5 separate regions of the Homo sapiens genome follow, and regions 2, 3, 4 and 5 are each linked to region 1. Evidence: fine-mapped expression QTL. A gene starts in region 1. Each other region holds a variant in brackets. All regions are shown on one strand. Distances are between the middles of the regions.

Region 1 (5,887 bases):
AATTTCACTGTGTTTATGCAGATGACCTTTTGTTTAGATTGAATTGTCTCCCCAAGGTATTTCCAGAAGTAAGATTACTGTGAGTCATGGTGAATGGGCATTCTCATTGCCCTTGATGTACATTGACAAGGTTTTGGGTGCCTCCTGGCTATAATCCCAGCCCTTTGGAGGCTAAGACAGGAGGATTGCTTGAGGCCAAGAGTTGGAGGAGGCAGTAAGGTGAGACCCTGTCTCTATTATTTTAAAAAATTGCCAACCTTTACCTTGGAAGACTATGTACAATTTAAACACCCCTCCTAGTATAAGAAAGTGTCCATTTCACTGCACCTTTGCCTGCACAGGGTATTATAATTTAATAAGTTATTTTTTGTTTGATTATTTTAAATAGATAAAATACCGCATATTACTTGGTCACATTTCAGCATCTTCCCTTAGCTTATTAGCTCTATTTCTTTTCTGTCTGTAAATGGTTGTTGTTGTTGTCGTTTTGTTGTTTTGTTTGAGACGGGGTCTTGCTGTGTCACCCAGGCTTGACTGTAGTGGCATAATCATGACTCACTGTAGCCTTGACCTCCCAGGCTCAAACTATTCTCTTACTTCAGCTTCCTGAGTAGCTGGGACTACAAGTGTGCACCACCACTCCCAGCTAATTTTTTTCTTTTTTTGGATAGAGACAGGGTCTCACTGTGTTGTCCAGGCCAATCTCTAGCTCCCGGCCTCAATCAGTCCTCCTGTGTTGGCTTCTTAAATTGCTGGAATTTCAGGCATGAGCCACCATGCCTGGCCTGGGCTAGTCCTATATTCTCTGGAGTTCTCTTTACTTTGTGCTAGCCAGTCTCTCATTATGCTGTTCCCCTGTTACAATGAATAATTCTCTGTATTAAATTTACCACTTTAAACTTTTGAGTGGTTTATGTCTCCTGGTTGGACTCTAATATGCTAAGAAGGGTCCCTGGAGATAGACTCACACAGATGGGATTTGGGGATAGGTTTGGTTATCCAAGGGGCAGTGCTGAGCTCCTTGCCAATGGGAAACGGAATGCTGGTGATTTCCAGGAAGTGACCTCACAATGACTCAAGCTACTGCTTACTGTTGATTGTGATGAAATGCCAGCTGAGGCACATGCCTTGGGAGCTAAGTGGTTGCTGCACTTGACCGCTATGAAGACTGGTGTGGGAATGGTCCTTTTGGATGCACTTCAGCAGGGGTCCCCAACCCCTGAGCCATGGAGCTGTAAGGAGCCACACAGCAGGAGGTGAGTGGTGTTGAGTGAGGGAAGCTGCATCTGTATTTACAGCCACTCCCCATTGCTCACATTCCCGCCTGAGCTCCGCCTTCTCTCAGATCAGCAGCAGCATTAGATTCTCATAGGAGCATGCATCCTATGCAAACCGTGCATGCGAGAGATCTGGGTTGTGCTGTCCCTATGAGAATCTAATACCTGATTATCTGTCACTTTCTTCCATCAATTCAGATGGGACCATCTTGTTGCAGGAAAATAAGCTTAACATGTCCACTGATTCTACATTATGGTGAGTTCTATAATTATTTCATTATATACTACAATGTAATAATGGAAATAAAGTGCCTAATAAATGTAATGCGCTTGAATCTTTTGGCTCAGCTCCTGCCTCCCGGCAGCCTCTCCAGGTCCAGAACTTTCTCCAGTCGGCCTCTACGGGCCAAGCTTGTGGCTCACAATGGCCTATTTAGGCCCATACCCTACCTCATGGCAGTCTCCACAGATGAGGCTGCTGCCTCATGGCAGCCCCCACAGGCCCAGCTCCATCATTACAATGGCCTCTTTAGGCCCAACTCCTGCCTCCCAGCCTTCTCTCCAGGCCCAGAGAGAAGGTTCTCAAGTCAACCTCACCAGGCCCAGCTACTGCCTCTCATCAGCCTCCCAAGGGCCATCTTTTGCCTCACAGCCACCTTCCAAGACTCAGCTCCTGTTTTACAGTGGACTCTTGAGGCCCACCTTTTGCCTCCCAGTGGCCTGTACAGGCCCAGCTCCTGCCATACAACAGTCTCTTTAGTCCGAGCTCCTGCCTCTGGGCAGCCTATACAGGCCCAAAATGTCCATAAGTCAGCCTCTCAAGGCCAAGCTCCTGCCTTCTTCCGTTGGCCTCTCCAGACCCAGCTGCTGCCTCCAGGTGGCCTCTAAAGGCTGAGGTTTCTCCTGGCTGTGCCTGGAGGCCCAGCTCCTGCCTCACAACAACCTCTTTTGGTTCAGCTCCTGCCCAGCTCCTGGTGGCCTTTGTAGGCCCAAAACTGCCTCAAGTCAAGCTCTCCAGACCCACCTTCTGCCTCCCAATGGCCTGGACAGGCCCAGCTCCTGTGTGACAACAGCATCTCCAGGCCCAGCTCTTGCCTCCCAGCTGACTCTCCAGGCCCAGCTTTTGCCTCACGGAGGTCTTCCCTGAACAAGTTTCTACCTGCCTCCCGGCAGCCTCGACAGGCCCAGGTCCTGCCTCACACTAACCTCATTACGCCCAGCTCATGCCTCACGGCAGCCTCTCCAGGCCCAGCTCCTGCCTCCGACGGGCTGTCCAGGCCCAAAACTTCCTCAAGTCGCCTCTTCAGGCACAGCTCCTGCCTAACACTGGCCTCTTTAGGCACAGCTCATGCCTCTCAGTGGCCTCTCCAGGCCCAGCTCCCGCATCCCGGTGGCTTCTCCAGACTGAGAACTTTCTCAAGTCTGCCATTTCAGCCCAAACTCCTGCCTCCCATTGGCCTCTACAGGCCCAACCTCTGCCTCACAGCAGACTTTCCAGGCCCAGTATCTGCCTCACCACAGCCTCCCAGGCAAAGCTCCTGCCTTTCGGCAGCCTCTACAGGCCTAGCTCCTGCCTCCCAGTGGCCTCTCTAGGCCAAGCTCCTGCCTCATGGTGGCCATTCCGGCCCAGCTTTTGCCTTTTTGCAACCTCTTTAGTCACAGAACTTCCACAAGTGAGCCTCTCCAGGCCCAGTTCTTCCTCCTAGCTGAATCTCCAGGCCCACCTCCTGCCTCACAACAATCTCTTTTGGCTCAGCTCCTGCCCAGCTCCTGGAGGCCTTTGTAGGCCCAAAACTTCCTCACGTCAAGCTCACCAGCACAATCTTCTGCCTCTTGGTAGCCTGGATAGGCCCAGCTCCTGCATGACAATGGCCTTTCCAGGCCCAGCTCTTGCTTCACGGAGGTCATCCCTGGCCAAGTTCCTGCCTACCTCCCAGCAGCCTTGACAGGCCCAGCTCCTGCCTCACACTGGCATCATTAGGCCCAGTTCATGCCTCACGGTGGCCTCTCCAGGCCCAGTTCCTGCCCCTGACAGACTCTCTAGGCCAAAATCTTCCTCAAGTCGGCCTCTCCAGGCCGATCTCTTGTCACACTGGTCTCTTTAGGCCCAGCTCATGCCTCTTGGCAGCCTCTTCAGGCCCAGCTTTTGTGTCCTGGCAGCCTCTCCAGGCCCAGCTCCTGCCTTCTGTCAGCCTCTACGGGCCCAATATCTGCCTCACAGCAGATTCTCCAGGCCCAGCATCTGCCTCACCGTGGCCCCCCACAAGCCAAGCGCCTGCCTTTCAGCAGCCTCTACACACCCAGCTCCTGCCACCCAATGGCTCTTTAGGCCAAGCTCATACCTCACGATGATTTTTCCAGGCCCAACTTTTGTCTCATGGCAACCTTCCCTGGCCAAGTTTCCACCTATTTCCTGGCAGCCTGGACAGGCCCAGGTCCTGCCACACACTGGCCTCTCTACGCCCAGCTCATGCCTCACAGTGGCCTCTCCAGGCCCAGCTCCTGTCCCGGGACATCATCTCCAGGCCCAAAACTTCCTCAAGTCGGCCTCTCCAGGCCCAGTTGCTGCCTCCCGGCATTCTCTCCAGGCCTAGCTCTTCCTCCTGGCTGTATCTACAAGACCAACTCCTGCCTCACAACAACCTTTTATGGCTCAGCTCCTGCCCAACTACTGCCGGCCTTTGTAGGCCCAAAACTTCCTCAAGTCAAGCTCTTTAGGCCCACCTTCTGCCTTGCAGTGGCCTGTACAGACCCAGCTCTGGCTTGAGAACAGCCTCTGCAGGCCCTGCTCTTGCCTCTTAGCTCCCTCTCCAGGCCCATCTCTTGCCTCACAGTGGCTTCCGTGGGCCAAGTTCCCGCCTGCCTCCCAGCAGCCTCAACAGGCCTAGCTCCTCCCTCACAATGGCTTGTTTAGGTCCAGTTGATGCCTCTGGCAACCTGTCCAGGCCCAGCTCCTGCCTCACACTGGCCTCTCTAGGCCGAGGTCCTTTCTCATACTGGCCTGTTTAGGCCCAGCTCATTCCTCTTGTCATCTCTCCAGGCCCAGCTTTTGCCTGTTGTTGGCCTCTACCTCACAGTGCACCTTCCAGTCCCACCTCTTGCCTCACCATGGCCTCCTCTGACCAGGTTCCTGCCTTTCGGCAGCCTCTACAGGCCTAGCTGCTGCCTCCCAATGGCCTTTGTAGGCCACGCTCATGCCTCACTGTGGCCTTTCCAGGCCTAGCTTTCGCTTTTTGGCCACTCCAGGCCCAGAACTTCCCCCAGTCAGCCTCTCCAGGCCCAGCTCTTCCTCCCAGCAACCTCTGCAGGCCCAAATCATCCTCAAATTGGCCTCTTCTTTCCCAGCTCCTGCCTCCTGGTGGCCTCTGAAGACCCAAATCGTCCTCCAGTTGGTTTTTCCAGGCCCAGCTCCTGCCTTTTGGTGGCCTCTCCAGGTGCAAAACTTCCTCCCATCAGCCTGTCCAGGCCCAGCTCATGCCTCTTGGTGGCCTTCTCAGGCCCTGCTTTTGACTTGGTGGCCTCTTCAGGCCCAGAACTTGAACTCAAGTCAGCCTCTCCAGGCCCAGCTCCTGCCTTCTTAAGGTCTGTACAGGCCCAGCCTCTACCTCACAGCGGACTCTCCACACCCAGCTCTTGCCTCACTGTAGCCTCCCCAGTCCAAAACTCCTGCCTTTTGGCAGCTTCGACAAGCCCAGCTCCTGCCTTTCAATGACCTCTTTAGGCCCCGCTCATTCCTTACAACGGCCTTTCCAGGCCCAGTTTTTCCCTTTTGGCGGCCTCTCCAGGCCCAGAACTTCCTCAAGTCGGCCTCTTTAGGCCCAGTTGCTGCCTCCTGGCATCCTCTGCAGGCCGAGCTCTTCCTCCCTGCTGTGTCTACAGGCCCAACTCCTGCCTCACAACAACCTCCTTGGACTCAGCTTCTGCCCAGCTCCTGGTGGCCTTTGTAGGCTCAAAATTTTCTCAAATCAAGCTCTCCAGGCCTACTGTCAGCCTCGTGGCAGCCTAAACAGGCCCAGCTCCTGCCTGACAATGGCCTCTCCAGGCTTTTCTCCTGCCTCGCAGCAGGCTTTCCAGGCCCAGCTCTTGCCTCATGGTGGCCTTCCCCGGCCATGTTCCTATCTGACTTCTGGCAGCCTCAACCGGCCCAGCTTCTGCCTCACACTGGCCTCTCTAGGCCCAGCTCCTTTTTCACAGTGGCCTCACTAGGCCCATCTCCTACCTCAGATCTGCCTCCCAAGACCCAGCTCCTGTCTCATGGTGGTCTCTCTTACACCAGCTCCTGCCTCACAATGGCCTCGTCTGGCCCATCTTCTGCCTCACAGTGGCCACTCAAGGCCCATCTTTTGCCTCATGGTAGCCTCTTCTGGTTTTGCTCTTGCCTCACAGTTGCCTCTTCCAGATCCAGCTTTAAGCCTTTGATGGTCAACAGCATCAAGGAGCCTAAAGCTTCCCTGGACTCTCATTTGTTCACTTTACAGCAGAGTGCCTTAGCAAAAACTGTCTCTTAACCTTGAGAGTGGATTTCTGACAAATCGATAGTAAATTCTGCCTGTGTGGTTTCACAGTGATTTCTGTTTTATTTAGTGTCTCATGGTTTTTCTTGTCTACTG
Region 2 (5,887 bases), 120 kb before region 1:
AGCTCCCTGCAACCTCCACCTCCCGGGTTCAAGCGATTCTCCTGCCTCAGCCTCCCAAGTAGCTGGGATTACAGGCATGCGCCACTGCACCCGGCTAATTTTGTATTTTTAGTAGAGACAGGGTTTCTCCATGTTTGGTCAGGCTGGTCCTGAACTTCTGATCTCGGGTGATCCGCCTGCCTCAGCCTCCCAAAGTGTTGGAATTACAAGCATGAGCCACTGTGCCTGGCCAGTAAATTCTTTAATATGCTCTTTTTAGTTTATCATTTCAGTTTACATTGTTGTTGATTCCGCTGTTCTCAACTGTTGAGTTTGATTTCATTATTATGTGTTTTATTTCCAAGTGTGCTTCTCTACTATTTTTTTCCTTTTTTTTCTGCTGTATAGTTTCTCTTCTTGTCATCTGCTGTTTCTGTAGCAGTTTCTCTTGCTTTGTCAATGTAATATCCTTTTAAATCCCTGTTAACTCTCACTGAGGTTGTTGATTAGAATTTTTTAAAAAGTTTTCTGTGCTTTCTTGCCTTGACTTAACTCTTTTTGAGGACTGCTTGGTCTCCTTTACAGCTCCTGATTGTCATTTATAACACCTAGTCATTTTCCATTGTCTTTGCCTACTTACAGTGAAAGTCTAGGCTAGTTTAAATTGGTAATTTGTATTCTTTAATGATTGTTAGCCCCCGAGTGAGCCTCACTTTCATAGCTTTCCTTCCCTCACACCAAAGGAAAAGTAGGAGATCTTAGTATTAGAGGCCTACTTCATGTATATGGCCTGTTGATGAGGATGCCTGCTCTTTTTTGACGTCTGGGGAGAGTTCCCAAATCTTTTTGTATTTTACTTCCTGGAGTCTCTCCAAGATGATTCTCTATATAATCAGGCAAACAAATGAGGAAATGTCACTGCTTGGCCAAATTGCTTTCCTTTGTGCCCTTGCTTGGCTGGAATTCTCTCTTCTAGCCCTCTCACTCCTTGTGGTGTTTGGTGGGTAACCTCACTATGAAATTTCACTTCCATTTCTGGTAGAAGATTAGTTTAAAAACTTTCAAGTGCTACTTTTTTTTGTTGTTTTTTTTTTTTTTTTCAGGAAAAGAATTAGAATGAATGTTGCTTCCAGAGTAGGTTTCCATTTGCCATCTACCCCCGGCCCCATTTTTTGTTCATCAGCAAATACTTATTGAATGCTGCCTGTGCTAGGAAATATATGATGAAGAATACAAAGTCTACTCATGGAGACTATATTTTAATAAAAAGACTAAACTTTGACATCATTCTCTTACATATTTTTACATAAGGAAAGAGTATTTGTTTTATCTTGGTGGGAACTTTTATTCATCCAATGAATAATATATTAAAGAAAACAAGTGGGAAATTTCATGCAGAAATTACATACAAGAAATAGGAAGAAAATATACAAAGGTCAAAACTTAGTAAGTCACATTGACCTAGCATGTTGCCTGGATTATTTAGGTATGCAATAACTTTTTACTGAAATGGAATGTTCTCAAGTACTGTGAGGCCAAGTAATTCAAGATAGAGAGGAAGGAACACCATCCATGTCTGTCGGCAAAATAGTAGCAAAACCTTTTCACCTCTCGCATAGGAATTTAGTTAACTTTTTAGGTATGTTTCTTGGAGCCCTTACAGTATCAACTACATTAGTAGGCTATACCGCTATGGAAAAAATGATCTCTGAGTAAATTGCATGTAGACCAGAAGGAAATATAAATGAACTAGTTTCCAGATGCCGATACAATGGCTGTAGGCTTCATTGAGTGCAGTGATTCTTGAAACTGGGTAGATCTTGCAGCAGTCCACACAGCTATCTGGGAGCTTTCATCCCAATGCTGACAGCTCATGTGCAAGGAGATGAGATCTAAATCAGATAGGTATAGAGACCATGCTAGCTGAGATGTTAATGAAGCAAGGACTCCTGAAGAAGGGGAACTTGACACTGTACTGCCCACATGCTATGCTTCTCTTCTGTATTCGTAGTGAGTCTAGTGCCAAGTGTAGCCTGTGATAGTCTTTGATTTTTAATATTCTTTGAGCTTAATGGGCACTGCAGTGGTTTAATCAGGTCTTGGGATCCCGACAGGTGTTTCCCCCAGGTCCATTAGGAGTCTTCTGTTACTTTTAGAGATCGTTTTTATAGTGTAATATACTAATTTTCCTTTAATTTAGGCTCAGGTTTCTGGGACTTTGGTCCACCTCAGTTTGCAGATTTCACAAGCAAATTATTTTACGTTTCTTTTCTACAGACTTTACCCCTTATTTGGGATGTGTGAAAAATTTTTACAGGAAGTAGACTTTTTTCAGAGGTAAGTATTTTATAACTCTTCCGGCTTATAAAATCTTGGTTACACGGAGTATAGCACTTGCAGGCAATAGGAACAATCACAAATCACATTCCTTGGTTTAGCTTGTGCAGCCAGGCTATCATCTGTGGCCATGTCGTTAACCTTAAATTAGGAAAAAAAAACTAATTTGGTTTTTTTCCTTAATATTATAGAAACTTCTTTGAAGTTGGAGCTTCAAAACTAAACCTACCAGGAATCACTTGCATTTAGCACTCAGCTAGGCCATAAAAACACAAGTAATATGAAGAAAACGTGTAAATACGTTTGTTGAAAAAAATCATTAGTCATCTGTTTTTTTCAACACTGTTCGTTCACACCATTCTTATTTATTTATTTATTTATTTATTTATTTATTTATTTGAGACAGAGTCTTGCTCTGTCACCCA[C/G]GCTGGAGTGCAGTGGCGCAGTCTTGGCTCATTGCAGCCTCCGCCTCCTGGGTTCAAGTGATTCTTCTGCCTCAGCCTCCCAAGTAGTTGGGACTACAGGTGCCTGCCACCACACCTGGCTAATTTTTGTATTTTTAGTAGAGACGGGGTTTCATCATGTTGGCCAGGCTGGTCTCTAACTCCTGACCTCAAGTGATCTGCCTGCCTTGGCCTCCCAAAGTGCTGGGATTACAGGCATGAGCCACCACCGCGTCTGACCTCATTATTATTTTTTGAGACAGGGTCTCACTCTGTCACCCAGACTGGCACAGCTCACTGCACCCTTGAACTCCTGGGCTAAAGCTATCATCCTACTTCAGACTCCTGAGTAGCTAGGACTACAGGCATGTGCCACCATGCCTGGATAATTTTTAATATTTTTTTTAGAGATGGGGTCTTGCTGTGTTGCTCAGGCTGGTCTCAAACTCCTGGCTTCAAGAGATCCTCCTGCCTCTGCCTCCTGAAGTATTGGGATTACAGGTGTGAACCACTGCACCAGGCCCACACTGTTCTTATACTTGCATATTTCTCTGTAATCTACAAACAATTGTTTTGTAATTCTATAGGTAAATTTTATTTTGTAGAATACATATATTTTTTCAGAGTTTTATATGGAATGAATCTGTTAAAGCACATGCAGTAGTTGAATGGAAAGCTTGATGAAGAAATAGGAGTCAAGGGAGTGACCAGACTTCTGGTATGCTGGCAGAATAATACTGGGAGAAGACATAGGATCTTAAAGCACTGATGAAGTCTGTTTCATTTCTTCCGCTCATTGTCTCTGCCCTCATGAAGTTCACCAAACCTGAGGTTTTTGTGACTCTGTACTTGTCATTGGGGTGATGATAGCTTCTTACAGGGCTGAGTTGCAACGCTACCTTCACCAGCAGGTAATGCTGTCTAGCAAACTGTACCATCTAGCTTAGCTTTTTAAGATCCTAGTTTTGAGGCTGGGCGCGGTGGCTCACGCCTGTAATCCCAGCACTTTGGGAGGCTGAGGCGGGTGGATCATGAGGTCAGGAGTTCGAGACCAGCCTGGCCAACATAATGAAACCCTGTCTCTACTAAAAAATACAAAAAATTAGTAGGGCGTGGTGGTGGGCAGCTGTAATCCCAGCCACTCGGGAGGCTGAGGCAGGAGAATTGCTTGAACACAGGAGGCGGAGGTTCCAGTGAGCCGACATCACGCCATTGCACACCAGCCCGGGCAATAGCGCGAGACTCCTTCCCAAAAAGAAAATAAAAAATAAATTCTAGTTTTGAATCTGAAATAAGTTCATGCCTTACTTTTGGCTTTAGATTCTTTAAAGTAGAGAGTCTGTTTTTGCACAGTTGGGTTGAAAAGATTTTTGGGAAGATGATAGCTCTGAATCCCCAAAGTTCTTCATCTGATGTTCTTAATTCATCCTTTGAGTTCCTGCACAGATATCACCTCCTCAGTGAGATATTTTTTGACTATCCACTGGCACGAGGCCCAAAATTGGATCAGTCTGAGACAGGAGTAACGTACTTAACTTTTCTGAGCCTCAGTGAGGCATCATCCCCTCTGAGTCTCAGTATTTCTGCCACTTGAATGTAAGCTCCATTGAAGCAATCGTTTTGTTCTCTTTTGTTCACTGTGTTTCCAGAACCTAAAATAGTGCTTGGTGCTTCGTAGGTCTTAAAAATGTATTTGTTAAAATAATTAATGAATCTATAATATGAAAATAAAAATTCTAATGATGCATAGGATTGCTGGGAGTTAAATAAGATCATGTAAAACACTTAAGAGTATGCCTGGCACATAATGGTTATCAATAAACAGAGGCCTTTCTGATGATCATGTGACTGAGGCATGATTGTATAGGTACCAGTCTATCTTGGTCGTAAATTGCAAGCTCTTCTCACTTCATCATTCTTCCTACTTCAGGGTTTGGTAGGTGTCTGGGGCCCAGCCTGTGGTGAATGTGTGCACAGTTGAATGAGTCAGTTGCTTCTGTTTGTTCCTCCAGGTATTTCATCGCTGATTTGCCCCACTTGCAGGACAGCTTTGTGGACAAACTCCTTGACCTTATGCCCCGACTCATGACATCCAAACCTGCAGAAGTGGTCAAAATTCTACAGACCATGCTGCGACAGAGTGCCTTTCTGCATCTCCCACTTCCAGAGCAGGTCAGGGTCTATTTGGCCCCTGTAGGCCAAATCTGTCCAGACGGTCAAAAATCTTTACCTTGGTGATCTTCTTTGACCAATGGAGCAGCTGGGCTAGGCTCTTCCTCTGAGTGGCTCCCACATGCCCACTCATTAGATAAGGAGACAGAAAAAAGATGTGTTTTCTTGTCCAGGAATGACCTGGCTTTAGAATCATAGGATTTTCCTCTGGCTTACAGATCCACAAAGCCTCAGCCACCATCATTGAGCCAGCGGGCGAGTCAGACAACCCTTTGCAGTTTAACTCTGGGTTGGTGGTTGCCCTGGATGTTGATGCAACCCTGGAGCATGTGCAGGATCCTCAGAACACTGTTAAGGTCCAGGTCTGTCGGGTTTGGGTCCTCGTGGAGCTTCTAGACTGACCTTGTGTTGAAGTATTTAATGTTAGTACCCCTATAGTCTCTACTTGAGGGACAGAAACTGGGACAGGAGAAGAAATGAGCCTCTGTGGGAAAGAACCTAGGCTTGAATCTCAACTACTGCTGAGTGTGGTTTGAAGCAAGTTACTTTAAACTCTGAGTCTCAGATTCTACAACTGACAAATAGGAGGAGTTGACATAAAGAGATAATGAATTTAAAGCCCCCAGGACCCAGTAAGGGTTCAGTAAATGATAAGACCTTTTCTAATCTTGTAATGTGACGTTAAGATTTGGTCTTTTATTACAGAAAACTATAATAAACAAGTTCCTTTCAGGCTGTGAGTCAGTCAGCTGGCAGATAAAATTTATGGATGGGAAAAAGCGATTACTAGGAAATATTCTTTCCCAAGTTACATAGATGTAATAGAGACACATGAGAAATGTAGTAGAGACACTAATCAATTCAGACAGTGCAGTTAAGCCCCACAAAGAGTACTACTCCTTCATTCATCCATCTGTCCACTCATTCATCCTTCCTTCCATCCATTTGTGCAATTG
Region 3 (5,887 bases), 65 kb before region 1:
ATAAAAAAGAAAACTATCCAAGTGTACAACCGGGAGGGACTGCTTAAAGAACACATGAGGCTCCCTGGGCCGTGCTATCCCGGCACTTTGGGAGGCCGAGGCAGGAGGATGGCTTGGGTTCAGGAGTTCGAGATGCGCCTGGACAACATGACGCAACCCCGTCTCTACGAAAGATACAAAGATTAGCCAGGCGCGGTGCACGCTTGGCCTAATTTTTGTATCTTCCGTAGAGATGGGGGGGGTCTTGCTATGTTGCCCGGGCCGGTCTCGAACTCCTGGGTTCAAGCGATCTTCTCACCTTGGCCTTTAGAGTTGTTGGGATTACAGGCGTGAGCCACCGTACCCTCCTGGGCTAGGCTATTTAATAACATAAGAAAGTGCGGTGGCTCACGCCTGTAATCCCAACACTTTGGGAGGCCGAGGCGGGTGGATCACCTGAGGTCAGGAGTTTGAGACCATCCTTGCCAATATGGTGAAACCCAGTCTCTACAAAAAAATACAAAAATTAGGCTGGGCGCGGTGGCTCACACCTGTAATCTCAGCACTTTGGGAAGCTGAGGCGGGCCGATCACCTGAGGTTGGGAGTTCAAGACCAGCCTGACCAACATGGAGAAACCCCATCTCTACTAAAAATACAAAATTAGCCGGGCGTGGTGGTGCATGCCTGTAGTCCCAGCTACTCAGGAGGCTAAGACAGGAGAGTCTCTTGAACCCAGGAGGCGGAGGTTGCAGTGAGCCGAGAAGCATCACTGCACCCCAGTCTGGGCGACAGAGCAAGACTCCAGAGCTTGAGACCAGCCTGGGCCATGTAGTGAAACCCTGTTTATAAAAAACAAACAAAAAAAGCCAGGTGTACCTGTGTCCACCTGTGGCCCCACTACTTAAGAGTCTGAGGCAGGAGGATAACTTGAGGCCAGGAGCTGAAGGCTGCAGTGAGCTATGGTCATCCCACTGCTCTCCATCCTGAGCAATAGAATGAAACCTTGTCTCTAGATAGCTAGCTAGCTAGGTAATTGATACGTAGTTTTCTATCGGAAATCTTTTTCCTAGACTTGAACATGTTTTTCTAAAGTAGCATTCAACACATCAGCATTTTACAGTGTTATTAGTTGTTAATATGATTATGTTTTTCTGAAATACAGTATTCTTTACCAAAACAGTGTTGTCTTTCAAAGCACATACATAGGTCCTCCAGTGAATTTGTCTGATGTTGGCGACCTTCGCTTTCTGGTGACTGAGTCAACAGTATCTGTTTCATAAATAATGTAGCCCTATTTTTTTTGAGACAGGGTCTTGCTCTGTTACCTGGGCTGGAGTGCAGTGGCATGATCTCTGCTCACCATAACTACCGCCTCCTGGGTTCAAGCGATTCTCCTGCCTCAGCTTCCTGAATAACTGGGATTACAGGCGCCACCATATCTGGCTAATATCTTTTTGTTTTTGTTTTTGAGACGGAGTTCGCTCTTGTTGCCCAGGCTAGAGTGCAATGTCGCCATCTCGGCTTACTGCAACCTCCACCTCCCGGGTTCAAGCGATTCTCCTGCCTCAGCCTCCCTAGTAGCTGGGATTACAGGCATGTGCCACCACGCCTGGCTAACTTTGTATTTTTAGTAGAGACAGGGTTTCTCCATGTTGGTCAGGCTGGTCTTGAACTCCCTACCTCAGGTGATCCGGCCACCTCAGCTTCCCAAAGTGACAGGTGTGAGCCACCGCGCCCAGCCTAATTTTTGTATTTTTAGTAGAGATGGGGTTTCACCATGTTGGCCAGGATGGTCTTGAATTCCTGACCTCAAGTGATCTGCCTGCCTTGGCCTCCTAAAGTGTTGGAATTACAGGCATAAGCCAACATGCCCGGCCAACCCTATTTCTTTAAGCATATACATTTTGCACTTGTTAAAAGTATTTGAACATAAAATTATCCAGCTTCCCTTGTTTATGTATGTTTGAATTTTGTATAAGCTTAAATATTTTTTCCAATCTAAGCTTTATTATATTCCCTTTCTTCTATATTTGTATAACTTTAGGTGGCTGTCTTTGTTGAAAGTTTTTTCTGAAAAGCCTTAAAACAATATAGTTATTGGCAGCAATTTCAGAGTTATTTGAGGGCAAGGGGAGATTTATAATGATGATTCAAATGAAGCAAACTAAAAAGTAATGAAGCAAGACAGAGGATAAAGCAGTATTCACTTGAGCACATCCCAAAAGAATAAAATTTCAAATGTAACTAGAAAAATGTATGCTGAAGATCATAGTACAGGAATAATTATTAATATTCAAAATAGCTTTAAAGCCGCTCACCTTTTGAATGTTGGGAATTTACCAGGAGGTGGCTGTAACCTAGAATTGTTCCTTCAGTAATGACCATTTTCTTTTTCAACATGATGATGATTCTCCACCTTCTAAGAGACCAAAGACCAACAAACTACCACAGCCACCAGTTCCGGAACCTGCCAATGATGGGCAACGGAAAGTGAGGGAGTTCAACTCTGGTAAGTTCTCAGTGAAATCCACAACCTTTTCCCTCATCTTCTGGACTCTCAATGTGGCTGATGAAAGTTACAACATGCTCATCTGCAGGGGGAAATGCTTTAGCATGTATTACTATGTTATAATCTCACCTTTGTAAAGCCAGGAGCTTTTTGAAAGTCCCATTATAGACATTGTTTAAACATGGTTTGAATTTACCAAAGCATAGGACATTGTTTCATCTCATATTAATTAGTTGGCTCAAAATTAGTCCTAATGACTTAGGAATTCAATGGTTTCTCTTAGCTTTAAAACCTTCTTTATTTCAGAACTATTTCACCTGTTGGTTTTCGTTTTTGCTGTGTGTCACTGCCTGCCAGCTGCTATTGTGTTAACTCCCAGTGGATCATGTGTCCTGTGAAGGGACTGAATGAGATATTAATGGCAAATTATGTTGATGATTCATATTTTGAATATAAATAGATCATTAAGCTTGTATACATTTTGAAAATAGTATGTTAATATTCTGTTGTGTCATAGTCACAATGATTGGCTACATATTGAATTTATATGTACATTAAGTTGTTGTATGCTTATGTTCTTTAACATTCTAACTTGCAACTGTATATCTGTTAAGT[CT/C]TTTTTTTTTTTTTTCCGAGAAGATCAGACTCTGATTTATTGAGGCATCTGTTTGATGCCAAGTTAAGTGGCCCAGGCTCTGTGTAGGGGGTGAGGTTAACGCAGGAAGAAAGATGGTGAGGGGCAAGGGTGCAAGGATTATGTTGGAATGAGGCTCCCCAAGTTTCCCTGGCCCTGGCTGGTTGTGCTGCTGGCCTGAACATCTGATGAGCTTGCAAGGGTGACTCCGAGAGGTGGGTGGTCCAGGGGCTAGGGCAGGGACTTTGGAGTCACGCTGTTGGCTTTGAATCCAGACTCCTACACTTGGTAGCTGTGACCTTTCCATGCCTCAGTGACCTGCAGAACTGAGCTCTGTCTGAGCCAGGTCCCATCCAGGCACTGCAGATCCATCCAGAGTTAAACCACCCCAGGTTGCTGACTATCTGCTGCCTTCTCAAGCAGATCCTTGTCTCCTTGGAGGCCTTCACAATCCAGTGGAGGAGGCAAAACTCATCTGCCTCTGTCCCTCTGGGTGCACCTCATGCCAGGTGCATCTGTGGGCACAGGTCATGCTCCTGGGCTTCCAAAGTTGGAGAAAGTTGCCAGGCTCAGGTGGCTATATCAGAGCAGCTGCTACCCTCTGGACACAGTGACAAAAGAACACTCTGGGCCTAGAGTCCTGGTCTGGGGCACTGGGCAAGGCTCTTGCACTTCTCTGAGCCCGTTTCCCCATCTGGAAAGTGTGCTGATTGAGTCTCCCTTTGGGCACTGAGGGCTCAGGGTTAGTTTGAGAGCCAGCATCTGGGGTTTGGGCTGTAATTCCCCTTCAGCCCCATAGCTGGGGGGAGTCAGGGACTTTGTCGGGATTACCCTAGGCATCAGTCCAGCTTCCTGCTCCTGGCTTGGGCTCAGCATCTGAAGTAGTTTGGGGGGCAGGTGGTCCTGGTGGGGGTTGGGGCTTTTCCCCAGAATTAGGTCACACCCAGAGCCAGAAATCTTGGCACCTGCTCTAGGCTAAGGATGCATCTGGCCCCCAGGGTGCAGGTAACTGCCCACCTTTCCTGGTTTCTGCCTGCCAGGGCCAATCTTCAGACCTCGGGACTTCCCAGCCTATCCCACCTCCCTCTCTGGCCAGCCTTGAACCCTCGTGGGTCCAGCACTTTTTCCAGGCCATCTCCTGGTTGTCCTCCTGCCCCGAGGCCTGGCTCATGCTGCTCCCCCTCCCACTCACCATGACCCACAAGGACCACTCCACACCCAGCTCAGCCCCAACCCCTTGGATAGTCCTTTCGCTTTCCTCAGGCAACCAGGTGCATATCTTGGTGTCAGGACCTTCCCTGCACCTGGGAATGCCTACTGGTCACGTCGGTCACAGAGACCAAGGCATTTACTTGATTTGAGTGCCTTTGGTTCATTGTCTGCATGGCCAGGGAGGGAGTCAATGATAGGCTTTTCACTTGCTGCAAGGGTCAGTTCTCCTGGCCCCATGGCCCTAGGGATGGAGGATGCTGCAGGATACACACCCCTCACTTCCCAGCTGAGTGCTGTGGGTCATCTCAGGGCGATTTCACAGTCCCGCATGCCCCACCCCCTCAGCTCTGCAAATACCAAGCAGCGCAGCCTGCCTAGGGGACAGTGGGCTCAGGACTGCCCAGGTGGGCTCAAGACTGCCCAGGTAGTCCCCAGAGTGCCCTTGGCAGGCCCCTCACCTAGCTGCTCCCACAGCTCTGTAGCAAGAGTCTAACCTTTTTTGAGTGTGGAGCCTGCTGAGAATGAGAACTGTGGGCTGTTTTCCCGGAAACGCATGTGCACACTCTCCACACAAAACCTTGCATCGTTTCAGGGGGCTCACACCTCCCTAAGGGCCCAGTTATTGAACCCCTCGGACCTGAGAATGAGAAACCTTGCCTCAATAGAGTCTTGCTCTGTTGCCCAGGCTGGAGTGCAGTGGCCCAACCTCAGCTCACTGCAACCTCCGCCTGCTGGGTTCACGCAATTCTCCTGCCTCAGCCTCCTGAGTAGCTGGGACTACAGATGCGCACCTACCACTCTCAGCTAATTTTTTGTATTTTTAGTAGAGATAGGGTTTCACCATGTTGGCCAGGATGGTCTAGATCCCTTGACTTCGTGACCCGCCCGCCTCGGCCTCCCAAAGTCCCAGGCATGAGCCACCACGCTGAGTCAGGGTCCCTCTTAAACTTGTATTTTTAAGGTCTGGTGTCCCTCTTACTTAATCTTTTTTTTTTTTCTTTTTTGAGACGGAGTCTTGCTCTGTCACCCAGGCTGGCAGTGGCATGGCCTCGGCTCACTGCAACGTCCGCCTCCTGGGTTCAAGTGATTCTCCTGCCTCAACCTCCTGAGTAGCTGGGACTACAGGCACCTGCCACCATGTCTGGCTAAGTTTTATATTTTTGGCATAGACGGGGGCGGAGGCAGGGGGTTGGGGAGGGGAGGGGGGATTTTGCTTTGTTGCCCGGAGCTCGAAGTGATAATCTGCCCACCTCTGCTCTCAAAGTGCTAGGATTACAGGCCTGCACCACTGCACCCAGCTGCTGTAAAGCCTTATTTCCACACAGCTGAGACATGTTTTAGGAAGTTTGCGAAAAGGCCTCTGGAGACCTCCTCATTGTGGCCTCCCTGTTGTCGTGTTTAATTTGATTGATCTTTTCTGCCCTCCTTTTCAGAAATTAAAGGCTAAAAAAAGGCATTAAACTTTAAAACTTCTCTTGTAGTCTCCTATTAAACTAATTCTAAGAACCACCAAAAAAGGGAAAAATGTTTTCGAAAGCAGTAAAATGATATG
Region 4 (5,887 bases), 210 kb after region 1:
AAAGGGAGCATATATCACAAAGAAAAGAAAGTTTCTAGAGTTTCTGTATTAACCACTGCTGAGAGATCAAGAAAGTTGAGGCCAGAAAATCAACATCTGCATTTGACAAGATGGAGGGATCAGGTTTTTGTTTTTGTTTTTTTTTTGAAACAGTCTTGCTTTGTCACCCAGGCTGCAGTGCAGTGGCACAATCTGGTTCACTGCAACCTCTGCCTCCCGAGTTCAAGTGATTCTCCTGCCTCAGCCTCCTGAGTAGCTGAGATTACAGGTGCCCACCATCACACCCGGCTAATTTTTGTATCTTTAGTAGAGACGGGGTTTCGCCATGTTGACCAGGCTGGTCTCAAACTCTTGACCTCAGACAATTGGCCCATCTTGGCCTCCTGAAATGCTGGGATTATAGGCGTAAGCCACTGCGCCCCACTGGATCAGGTAATGTTAACAGTCATTTCTGTAGACCAGTGAGGATGAAAGCCCAACAGAATGGTTGAGAGAATGAGGGTCTAATCAGCACTTTCAAGAAGTTTTGTTGGGATGGGAAGCAGAAATGGAGTAAGAGGTGGACATGTGGCCAGGTGTGGTGGCTCACACCTGTAATCCTAGCACTTTGGGAAGCCGAGCTGGGCTGATTGCCTGAGCTCAAGAGTTTGAGACCAGCCTGGGCAACATGGTAAAACCCCATCTCTACTAAAATTCCAAAAAGAAAAAATAAGCTGGGCATGGCGGCATGCACCTGTAGTCCCAGCTACTCGGCAGGCTGAGGCAGGAAAATTGCTTGAACCCAAGAGGCTGAGGTTGCAGTGACACAAGATGGTGCCACTGCACTCCAGCCTGGCAACAGAGCAAGACTCCGTCTCAAAAAAAAAAAAAAAAAAAAAAAGAGGCTGACATGTATGTGAGGACAGGATTTTCTTAAGATGAATACACTAAAGCAGGATTGTATGCTCACAGGAAATGCTCTAGTAAGTAGGGAAAAATTAGTAATGATGGCTTATACAAGAGTAAAATATATTAATAGTTTTTCAGGTTGCAGATGAAATCCCATCAGTAGGTTGCAAAATTAATTCAGTAGGTCAACTTATTTTTATTTTTATTTTTTTTTTAGACAGAGGCTTGCTCTGCCACTCTGGCAGGAATGTAGTGGCTGGATCTCAGCTCATTGCAGCCTCCTGGGATCAAGCGGTCCTCCCATCTCAGCCTCGTAAGTAGCTGAGACTACAGGCATGAACCACCACACTCAGCTAACTTTTTTATTTTTTGCAGACACAGGGTCTCCCTATGTTGCCCAGGCTGGTCTCTACCACCCAGGCTCAAGTGATCCTCCTGCCTACGCTTCCCAAAGTGCTGGCATTACTGGTATGAGCCACACGCTTGGCCCCATTCATTTTAACAAAAAAATAAACAATATGAGAGTGTACGCCATACATTATTGTTTCATGAGCCTTTCATTTCAGTTACACAGACATATTATGTTACGTCAATAAAAAAAAAAAACTCAAAAGGAGCCAGGTGAGGTGGCTCACACCTGCAATCCCAGCACTTTGGGAGTACAAGGCAGGAGGATCACTTGAGCTCAGTATCACCTTGAGACCAGCCTAGGCTGTAGTGAGACCCTCTGTCTACAAAAACTTAAAAAAAAAAAAATGAACAGTGAGTGATGGTGTGGGCCTGCAGTCCCAGCTACCGGAGAGGCTGAAGCAGGATTGCTTGAGTCCAGAAGGTCGAGGCTGCAGTGAACCATGATTACACCACCACACTCCCACTGGTGGACACAGCAAGACTCTGTTTCTTAAGAAAAAACAAAATTAATTAATTAAAAATATAAACATCTGAAATGCCATAGTACATATAACCATTAAACATGAGGCAAGAGAACGTGAAGGAAACTGTATCAGTCAGTTCACAGAGAACACAAGTTAGGTAATACCTACAAGTTAATATCAATCATATAAAACCCACATTCGGAGTAGATGCAAAAACTTCCATTTGCACTAGGCGCAACGAACAAGCACGGAAAAGACCACGTGGAGTTAAACTGTCAGAAAACCTTTTACCCTCGCCTGTACACACCCACACACCCCGTGCTGTTTCTCCGGTCCCAGTCCTGGCTCACATCCTTCCCTTCTCCACCCAAAAACTCGCCCCTTCCCTCACAGTGTTGACTGTTCCCATCAAACTCTGAGGGCAGCTCTTCGGAGTGAGGGCTCCCCAGGGCCCGGTGGGGCAAGCAGAGCTCTACCTGGACCTGATTCGTCTCTCCTCCACCTACTTTCAGGGCGGACAGACTCAGGCCTTTACAGCCTGCTAAGTCCCGGGTCGGATACCAGGCTGGGCTCCACCCCCGCACTGTGACCCAGAAACGCTGGTAAATGAATGAGAGAAGGAGGGGGCACATTGAAAGGCAGCCGGACACGGAGGTGCTCGGCCCCGCACCCCAGACACAGGTTGTGGAGGTTCGGAGGGGCTTGAGTCCCGTTCGTCCCTGTCCCTATCCCGGGGCCCTCCCGGACAGGGCCAGCCAGCCCCCTGCCCTCACTTCCGTACGAGGGTCGCCCAGTCCCCACGGCTCTCGGCTCTCAGAGGTCCAACTGTTAGGCTCCTCGCGTACCAAAAGGGACGCG[T/C]CCAGACTAGAGTCTGGACTTCCATGAGGTCCAGACTCGTCGCCTCTGGCTGCCAGCAGACAAGGAACTTCACACTCTACAGCTCTCCCCACCGTCGCCAACAGCGCCAAAGTGCCAGCTCCGCACGCCAAGGTGCAAGCCAGGAGCGCCGCGCTTCATGCCGGGAGCTTGGCGGACTCGGAACCTCGCGCCGCAGGTTCTCCTTTCTCGGGGGTGGGGGTGTTGGGGGGGGTGGGGGCGTGTTCCTGTATCCTTCGCCCAGGCCGACTTCAGACTGCTGAGCGTTTGCGGACAGGATTATCTCGTGTTTTCTATTGTTTGTTTGTTTGTTTTGAGACGGAGTCTTGCTCTGTCGCCCAGGCTGTAGTGCAGTGGCGCGATCTCGGTTCGCTGCAGCCTCTGCCTCCCGGGTTCAAGCAATTCCCTGCCTCAGCCTCCCAAGTAGCTGGGATTACAGGCACCCGCCACCATGCCCGGCTGATTTTTGTATTTTTTATTAGAGACAGGGTTTCACCATCTTGGCCAGGCTGGTCTTGACCTCCTGACCTCGTGATCCACCTGCCTCAGCCTCCCAAAGTGATGGGATTACAGGCATGAGCCACCGTGCCCGGCCACCTGGCTAATTTTCTTTTTTTCTTTTTTCTTTTTTTGAGACGGAGTCTGGCTCTGTCACCCAGGCTGGAGTGCAGTGGCGCAATCTCGGCTCACTGCAAGCTCTGCCTCCCAGGTTCACGCCATTCTCCTGCCTCAGCCTCCCGAGTAGCTGGGACTACAGGCGCCGGCCACCCTGCCCGGCTATTTTTTTTTTTTTTTTTAGTAGAGACGGGGTTTCACCGTGTTAGCCAGGATGGTCTCGATCTCATGACCTCGTGATCCGCCCACCTCGGCCTCTCAAAGTGCTGGGATTACAGACGTGAGCCACCGCTTCTGGCCCCCTCTGGCTAATTTTCTAAAAAAAAATTATTTGCTGTCCAAAGGGTCAGCTAGAATTTTTCTTTTATTTTTTTGTAGAGATGGGAGAGTCTCTATGTTGCCCAGGCTGGTCTTGAACTCCTGGCCTCAAGTGATCCTCCCACCTCCACCTCCCAAAGTGCTGGGATTACAGGTGTGAGCCACCGCAATGGCCTTTGTTCCCTCCTTTGTAAATAATAAATGTGTTAGATAATCCTCATAAAGTGCCTGGCACTTTATTAATTACTGTGGCAGTACAACCATGACTCTCTGTGAAGTAGATTCCTTTATTATTGACATTTTATAATTGAAGAAACTGAGGCAGTCTTGGAGAGATTATGATTTACCAAAAGTCACTCATCTAGGAACTTGTCCGGTGGGTATTGAACCCCAGTCAATCTGAACAAACACAACAGATGCATTAACTAGAGACTGGTGAGTGGATGAATAAAATGTACTACATTTGTACAATGGAAAACTATTTAAAAATAAAAAGGAGGCCAGGCTTGGTCCCAATACTTTGGGAGGCGGGGGCAGGATTTCTTGAGACCAGGAGTTCCAGACCAGCCTGGGCAACATAGCCAGACCCCCTATCTACAAAAAGTTAGCCAGGTGTGTGGTGGTGAGCACTTGTAGTCTCAGGTACTGGGGAGGCTGAGGTGGAAGAATCACTTCAGTCGGGAGGTCGAGGCTGCAGGGAGCTATGATCATATCACTGCATTCCAGCCTACAGAGTGAGAGACCTTGTTGCAAAAAATACATATAGATAGATGGATAGATACATGCTACAACATGGATAACCTCCCAAAACATGACGCTATTAATAAGTGAAAGACGCCACACACAAAATAATACATATCACCTGGCCACGTGGCTCATGCCTATAATCCTAGCACTTCAGGAAGCCAAGGCGGGTGGTTCATCTGAGATCAGGAGTTCAAGACCAGCCTGGCCAACATGGTGAAACTCCATCTCTACTGAAAATACAAAAATTGCCAGGCACAGTGGCTCACGCCTGTAATCCCAGCACTTTGGGAGGCCGAGACAGGCAGATCATGAGGTCAGGAGTTCGAGACCAGCCTGGCCGACATAGTGAAACCCCGTCTCTGCTAAAAAAACAAAAATTAGCCGGGCATGGTGGCAGGCGCCTGTAATCCTAGCTACTTAGGAGGCTGAGGCAGGAAAATTGCTTGAACCCGGGAGGCAGAGGTTGTGGTGAGCCAAGATTATGCCACGGCACTCCAGCCTGGGCGACAGAGCAAGACTCCTTCTAAAAATATATATACATACCGTATGATTCACTTTATATAGAATGTCCAAGAAGAGGCCAATCTATGGATACAGAAAGAAGGCTAGGAGAGGGGTTGGGTGCAGGGATGGGCAGTGACTGCTAATAGATATGGAGCTTCTCTTTGGGAAACGAAAATGTCCTAAAAGTATTATGGATGGCGGTGGTGGTTGCACAACCCTGTGAATATACTGAAAACATTGAGTTGTACACTTTAAATGGCAAATTGTACAGCATATGAATCCTATATTAATAAAGCTGTTAAACATTTTTTACTCGGCTGAGCATGGCGGCCCACACCTGTAATCCCAGCACTCTGGAAGATGAAGGCAGGTGGATCGCTTGAGCCCAGTTTGAGACCAGCCTGAGCAACGTGGCAAAACCTCATCTTTACGAAAAAAAAGAAATTAACCAGCGCAGTGGCTCGCACCTGTAACCCCAGCTACTCAGGAGGCTGAGGCAGGAGAATCGCCTGAACCCAGGAGGCAGAGGTTGCAGATCGCGCCACTGCACTCCAGCCTGGGTGACAGAGCAAGACTCCATCGCAAAACAATAACAACGGCCAGGCGCGGTGGCTCACACCTGTAATCCCAGCACTTTGGGAGGCCGAGGAGGGCAGACCACAAGGTCAAGAGATCGAGACCATCCTGGCCAACATGGTGAAACCCTGTCTCTATTAAAAGTATAAAAATTAGCTGGGCGTGGTGGCGGTCGCCTGTAGTCTCAGCTACTTGGGAGGCTGAGGCAGGAGAATCGCTTGAACCCAGGAGGCAGAGGTTGCAGTGAGCCGAGATCACGCCATTGCACTCCAGCCTGGGCGACAGAGCGAGATGCCGTCTCAAAAAAAATAAAAATAAAAAATTAAAAAACAACAACAACAACAACAAAGTGCATAAAATGCCACCCAGATCTAGCTGGCCTGGTTAGTGTGGAGAATTCCCTGTACCTTCGTTGAGAAAATGGGGCCCCACAAAGAAATGCTAAAGCTCCTCCTTGTGTTATTCATTCAACAAGTATGTAGCCATGG
Region 5 (5,887 bases), 110 kb before region 1:
CCTCCTGTGCTTCCTTCCCTCCCTCCCTTCTGCTCAGCTGACACTCACTTCTCCAACATTACTAGAAGCCCTCAGAGTGAATGTTCTTATCTTCCCACCATCCACCGACTGTGTCTCTCTCTTCCTTCCACTGTCACTGTGTAATAATTGCCCTTCTGCGGCTGGGCATGGTGGCTCATGCCTGTAATCCCAGCACTTTGGGAGGCTGAGGTGGGAGGACTGCTTGAAGCCAGGAGCTTGAGACCAGCCTGGGCAACATAGTGAGACTCCATCTCTACAAAAAAGTTTAAAAATTAGCCATGGGCTGGGTACGGTAGCTCACGCCTGTAATCTCAGCACTTTGGGAGGCTGAGGTGGGCGGATCACCTGAGGTCAGGAGTTCAAGACCAGCCTGGCCAACATGGTGAAACACTGTCTCTATAAAAATACAAAAATTAGCTGGGCCTGGTGGCATGCACCTGTAATTCCAGCTACTTGGGAGGCTGAGGCAGGAGGGTCACTTGAACCCAGGAGGCGGAGGTTGCAGTGAGCCAAGAATGCACCATTGCACTCCAGCCTGGGTGACAGAGCGAGACTGTGTCTCAAAAATAAAAATAAAAGTTAGCAAGGCATGGTGGTGTGCACCTGTGGTCCCAGCTACTCAGGAGGCTGAGCTGGGAGGATCACTTGAGCTCACGAGTTCAAGGCTGCAGTGAGCCATGATTGGGTCACTGCACACCAGCCTGGGTGATGGAGTGAGACCTTATCTCTCAAAAAAAAAAAATGTCCTTTTGATTTATGAAGCCTCGGCCCGGCCTGAGCTGTGGGTTCCTATTCCTTCTGGCTTTCTCAAGCTTTTCTTGTCCACTGGAAGCTTTCACTAGAGGGTAGAGGACTGGCTCTGTAATTGGGGACCTAATTGATGCTCTGTTTTCTGTAAAGAGGAATTTTTCTAATTGCCACTTAGCAGGGAGCCTGGCTAGGGATGGAATCTGGGGGCCTTACTATTGGTTCACCCTCCTGGGGACCCCTCATCTTTGGTCCATGCATATTCTCCTTGGGGTGGCATCCTGGAATTAATGATCTCTTACACATCACAGCACCTCGAAGCTCCCCCAGACACATCCTCATCCAGCCTCTCACTCTGATGCCATCATTGTCTAGGGACACCTCCGCATAGGTCCATACCATGTCTCAAGCTGCTCATCTCAACAACATTTGTGCTCCAGGAGGTGGAGGTGCCCTAGGGGGCTCCTCACCAAGGGAGTGGGCAGGTGATCCCAGCACTTTGGGAGGCCGAGGCAGGTGGGTCATTTGAGGTCAGGAGTTCATGATCAGCCTGACCAACATGGTGAAACCCTATTTCTGCTAAAAATACAAAAAAATTAGCCAGGCCTGGTGGTGCATGCCTGTAGTCCCAGCTACTCAGGAGGCTGAAGAGAATCGCTTGAACCTGTAAAGCGGAGCTTGCAGTGAGCCGAGATCACACCACTGCCCTCCAGCCTGGGTGACAGAGTGAGATTTAATAAAAGTGTATGCATTGAACCCATTGGGAGGTTTATCTGTTAGGGAAATGGGAATAACTGGGAATCACACAATCAGAGAGACAGGAGTCGGGACTTGCATGGGGCTGTGATGCCGTGGCCTGTGGGTCTGGGTGGGGGAATGTGATGCACTCTGCCCTCCCCCTAGGCCCCATCCCTCCTGTCTAACTCAGTTGTCCTTACCTGTGGCTCTCAGGCTCCCCTGCAAAGGCACATTGTGGCTGCAGCTTCCAGCTTCCTCAGAAGCAAACATCCTTTGGTAAAAGCCAAGAGGTCAAGCCGGGCTTGGTGGTTCACTCCTGTAATCCCAGCACTTTGGGAGGCTGAGTATCACGAGGTCAGGAGTTCAAGACCAGTCTGGCCAACATAATATAACAGTATAACGTATAATAGTCGAATGCATAAAAAAAATTACAATGACAGCAAAAAAAACAAAACAAGACCAAAAAAAGACAAATCAGACTTACCTTTCTCCGTGCTAGATTTCTAGGAGGCCACACTCTTCTCTTCCTGTTCCTCCCCTAAATAAAAATGGAGCACAAAATTATGACTACAGATTTCTTCAAGAAAGACCTGTAGATTCTGCAAGAGCAAGATCCTAGAAAGAGAGAATGAGGAAATGAACATTGAAGTCCAGACACAAAACAGGAAAGAGGGAGACTGGCTTCACTCTCTCCTGGTGGGACTGTCACAAAAACGAGTCAGAGGCAAAATTTCCTAAGACTGCTTCCTCTAGGTAATGCTTTAGTTTTACCCCCTTCAAGCACTGCAGAGTCAGCATATTCTTTTCTGTGGCTTCAATTCTGCAAGATTCAGGTCTGATAGGAAATCATGTAAACCTGATTAGCAGAGTACAAAGAAAAGAGAGAGGCAGAGGGAGAGGGAAAGAGAATCTCTTGGGAGAACTAAATGAATAGACACAGAAGCAGACTCAGGCGGGCGCAGTGCCTCACGCCTGTAATCCCAGCACTGGGAGGCCAAGGCTGGTGGATCACTTGAGATCAGGAGTCTGAGACAAGCGTGGCCAACATGGTGAAACCCTCTCGCTACTAAAAATACAAAGATATTAGCCAAGTGGTAGTAGCATGTGCCTGTAAGCCCAGCTATTTGGGAGGCTGAGGCAGGAGAATTGCTGAACCCAGGGGGCAGATGTTGCAGTAAGCCCAGATCACGCCACTGCACTCCAGCCTGGGCAATAGAGAGACACTCCGTTTCAAAAGAAAAAAAAATTCACCGGATGTGGTGGCACATGCCTGTGGTCCCAGCTACTCGGGAGGCTGAGGCAGGAGAATTACTTGAACGCCAGAGGTGGAGTTTGCAATGAGCCGAGATCGTGTCTCTGCTCTGCAGCCTGGGTGATAGAGCGAGACTCCATCTCAAAAATAAATAAATATATAAATACAGGGGACAGAGACAACAGCATTCCAAGATGAATCAGAGAAAGGATCTGCTGCCCAATTACAAGGAAGCAAAGACAACAGTTTGTGTGTGTGTGTGTGTGTGTGTGTGTGTGTGTGTGTGTGTGTG[T/C]GCGCATGTCTGAGACAGGGTCTTGCTCTGTCACCCAGGCTGGAGTGCAGCAGTGCAATCATAGCCCACTGCAGCCTAGAACTCCTGGGCTTAAGCAATCCTCCTACCTCAGCCTCCTGAGTAGCGGGGACTACAGATGCACACCACCATGCCCCGCTAAGTTTTTATTTTTTGTAGAAACAGGGTCTCGCTATGTTGCCCAGGCTGACATTGAACTCATGGCCTCAAGGAATCCTCCCACACTGGCCTCCCAAAGTGCTGAGATGACAGCCGTGAGCCACCACACTGGGACTGCAGTTTCTTATAAAGTTAAACATATACTTATCATAGGACCCACCAAGGCTGGGCGCGGTGGCTCATGCCTGTAATCCCAGCACTTTGGGAGGCTGAGGCAGGTGGATCACCTGAGGTCAGGAGTTCAAAACCAGCCTAGCCAACATGGTGAAACCCCCGTCTCTACTAAAAATACAAAATTTCCAGGCATGGTGGCACATGCCTGTAATCCCAGCTACTAGGGAGGCTGAGGCAGGAGAATTGCTTAAACCCAGAAGGCAGAGGTTGCGGTGAGCCGAGATTGCGCCATTGCACTCCAGCCTGGGCAGCAAGAGTGAAACTCCATCTCAAAAAATAAAAATTAAAAAGACACCCAGCAATCCCAGTCTTGGAGTTTTATCCAAGAGAAATGAAAACATATTCATAGCAGCTTTATTTGTGACTGCCCAACACAAGAAAAAACCCAAATATTCACCAACAGATAAATAGCTAAACAAATTGTGGTATATCCCTACGATGGAACACTACTCAGTAATAAAAAGAAATGAATTACTGATACATGCTACAACATGGATAAATATTTTAAAAAATATACCAATAGGGCTGGGCGCGGTGGCTCATGCCTGTAATCCCAGTACTTTGGGAGGCTGAGGCAGGTGGATCACGAGATCAGGAGATTGAGACCATCCTGGCTAACACGGTGAAACCCCGTCTCTACTAAAAATACAAAAAATTAGCTGGGCACGGTGGCACATGCCTGTAGTCCCAGCCACTCAGGAGGCTGAGGCAGGCGAATCGCTTGAACCCAGGGGGCAGAGGTTGCAGTGGGCCAAGATTGCGCCACTGCACTCCAGCCTGGGGGACAGAGCAAGACTCAGTCTCAAAAAAAAAAAAAATTATACCGATGGAAGGCCAGGCACGGTGGCTCACACCTGTAATCCCAGCACTTTGGGAGGCCAAGGCAGGCAGATTACCTGAGGTCAGCAGTGACCAGCCCAACCAACATGGTGAAACCCTGTCTCTACTAAAAATACAAAATTATCTGGGCATGGTGGCGCATGCTTGTAATCCCAGCTACTCAGGAAGCTGAGGCAGGAGAATCACTTGAACCCGGAAGGCAGATGTTGCAGTGAGCTGAGATTGCGCTACTGCACTGCAGCCTGGGCAACAGGAGCGAAACTCCATCTCAAAAAAAAAAAATTATACCGATGGAAAGAAGCCAGACACAAGAGCACATACTGTTTCAGTTATATGAAACACTAGAAAATACAAATGCCCTAACAACAAAGATCAGATCAGTAGGGCTGGGGGTTGGGACGGGGCTGACTGGAAAGAGGCCCTAGGAACCTTCTGGGTGATGGAAATGTTATTGTGATGATTACAAGTATGAATAAATTTGTCAAAATTCATCAAAATGCACACTTAAAGAGTGTATTTTATTACATTTAATTATATAGCAATAAAACACTGGCTTTAAAAAAGTCTCTGATAAGAGGCTGGTCTAGGCAAACTTGAGGATCCCTTCCACCCTAATTCTAGCCCAAATATTTTCTTTTTTTTTCTTTTTTTCTTTTTTTTTTCCTGAGATGGAGTCTCACTCTTGTCGCCCAGGCTGGAGTGCAGTGGCGCGATCTTAGCTCACTGCAATTTCCACCTCCCAGGTTCAAGCAATTCACCTGCCTCAGCCTCCTGAGAGCTGGCATTATAGGCACACACCACCATGCCCAGCTAATTTTTTGTATTTTTAGTAGACAGGGTTTCACCATGCTGGCCAGGCTGGTCTTGAACTCCTGACCTCAGGTGATCTGCTCGCCTCAGCCTCCCAAAGTGCTGGGATTACAGGTGTGAACCACCATGCCCAGCTAGTCCAAGTATTTTCTTAAAAATAAAATAAAACAAGGCCGGGCATGGGGGCTCACCCCTGTAATCCCAGTACTTTGGGAGGCCGAGGTGAGAGGATTGATTGAGCCCAGGTGTTTGAGACCAGCCTGGGCAACATAGTGAGACGTCATCTGTACAAAAAATAAAATAAATGAGCCAGGCATGGTGGTGCATACTTGTAGTCCCAGCTACTTGGGAGGCTGAGGGGAGGATCACTTGAGCTCAGGAGTTTGCGACTGCAATAAGCTATGATTGCACCACTGCACTCCAGCCTGGGTGACCAAGTGAGACCCTGTCTCTTAAAACAAAAAAGAAAAGAAGGAAGGTAGGTATCAGGCATATATTAAATCATCTGAAAATTTTAAAAAGTCCTGATTACTTTGTTTCACCGACATGAAAGTGACAGGACTATGGTCATGATATTGAAAACCTACCTGGCACTGTAATACAGGAATATTGGATTTTATTATTTTCCTCCCTGATTCTCATTCCAATATCAGTCATCAAATATTTAAAAAGTAATAATATGCAAACATACGTAAAGAAAATATAGTGGCCAGGTACAGTGGCTCATGCCTGTAATCCCAGCACTTTGGGAGGCTGAGGCGGTGGATCGCTTGAGGCCAGGAGTTTGAGACAAACCTGGCTAACATGGTGAAACCCTGTCTCTACTACAAATATAA

Direction of the effects. Positions count from the first base shown, and alleles are read on the strand shown. Sizes are in standard deviations (SD) of each study's normalised expression. Not every link is listed here.
For the expression in fibroblasts of the gene that starts at base 3,147 in region 1, G is the high allele of the variant in region 2 and C is the other (large effect, 0.85 SD a copy in GTEx).
For the expression in whole blood of the gene that starts at base 3,147 in region 1, T is the high allele of the variant in region 4 and C is the other (moderate effect, 0.48 SD a copy in GTEx).
For the expression in iPS cells of the gene that starts at base 3,147 in region 1, T is the high allele of the variant in region 5 and C is the other (large effect, 0.82 SD a copy in HipSci).

What was found. PIP is the estimated chance that this variant, and not a neighbour inherited with it, causes the effect.
Region 2: its variant is the best candidate, but not a certain one, in a credible set for the expression of LINC03129 in fibroblasts (GTEx, PIP 0.81).
Region 3: its variant is the best candidate, but not a certain one, in a credible set for the expression of LINC03129 in lymphoblastoid cells (GEUVADIS, PIP 0.76).
Region 4: its variant is the best candidate, but not a certain one, in a credible set for the expression of LINC03129 in whole blood (GTEx, PIP 0.50).
Region 5: its variant is the best candidate, but not a certain one, in a credible set for the expression of LINC03129 in iPS cells (HipSci, PIP 0.52).

Annotation. Positions count from the first base shown.
Region 1 is chr7:65,836,558-65,842,444 of GRCh38, forward strand. LINC03129 (long intergenic non-protein coding RNA 3129) reads left to right here and starts at 3,147. Exons shown (of 1, transcript XR_002956508.2): 1 at 3,147-5,845. RefSeq lists an enhancer at 2,485-2,996.
Region 2 is chr7:65,713,392-65,719,278 of GRCh38, forward strand. All of the region lies in intron 3 of LINC03006 (long intergenic non-protein coding RNA 3006), which reads right to left. It also overlaps the pseudogene INTS4P2. Among named protein-coding and RNA genes, the nearest start is that of SNORA22, 39 kb to the right of the region's middle. The variant C/G (reference allele first, on the strand shown) is at 2,742.
Region 3 is chr7:65,771,246-65,777,132 of GRCh38, forward strand. It overlaps the pseudogene GTF2IP5. Among named protein-coding and RNA genes, the nearest start is that of LINC03006, 3.4 kb to the left of the region's middle. RefSeq lists enhancers at 4,145-4,646, 4,647-5,146. The variant CT/C (reference allele first, on the strand shown) is at 3,105.
Region 4 is chr7:66,041,682-66,047,568 of GRCh38, forward strand. LOC105375336 (a long non-coding RNA gene) reads right to left here and starts at 2,733. Exons shown (of 5, transcript XR_002956511.2): 1 at 2,609-2,733. RefSeq lists enhancers at 2,401-2,901, 2,472-2,561, 2,882-2,951. The variant T/C (reference allele first, on the strand shown) is at 2,622.
Region 5 is chr7:65,725,065-65,730,951 of GRCh38, forward strand. It overlaps LINC03006 (long intergenic non-protein coding RNA 3006), which reads right to left. Exons shown (of 8, transcript NR_038378.4): 3 at 1,991-2,044. Among named protein-coding and RNA genes, the nearest start is that of SNORA22, 28 kb to the right of the region's middle. The variant T/C (reference allele first, on the strand shown) is at 3,051.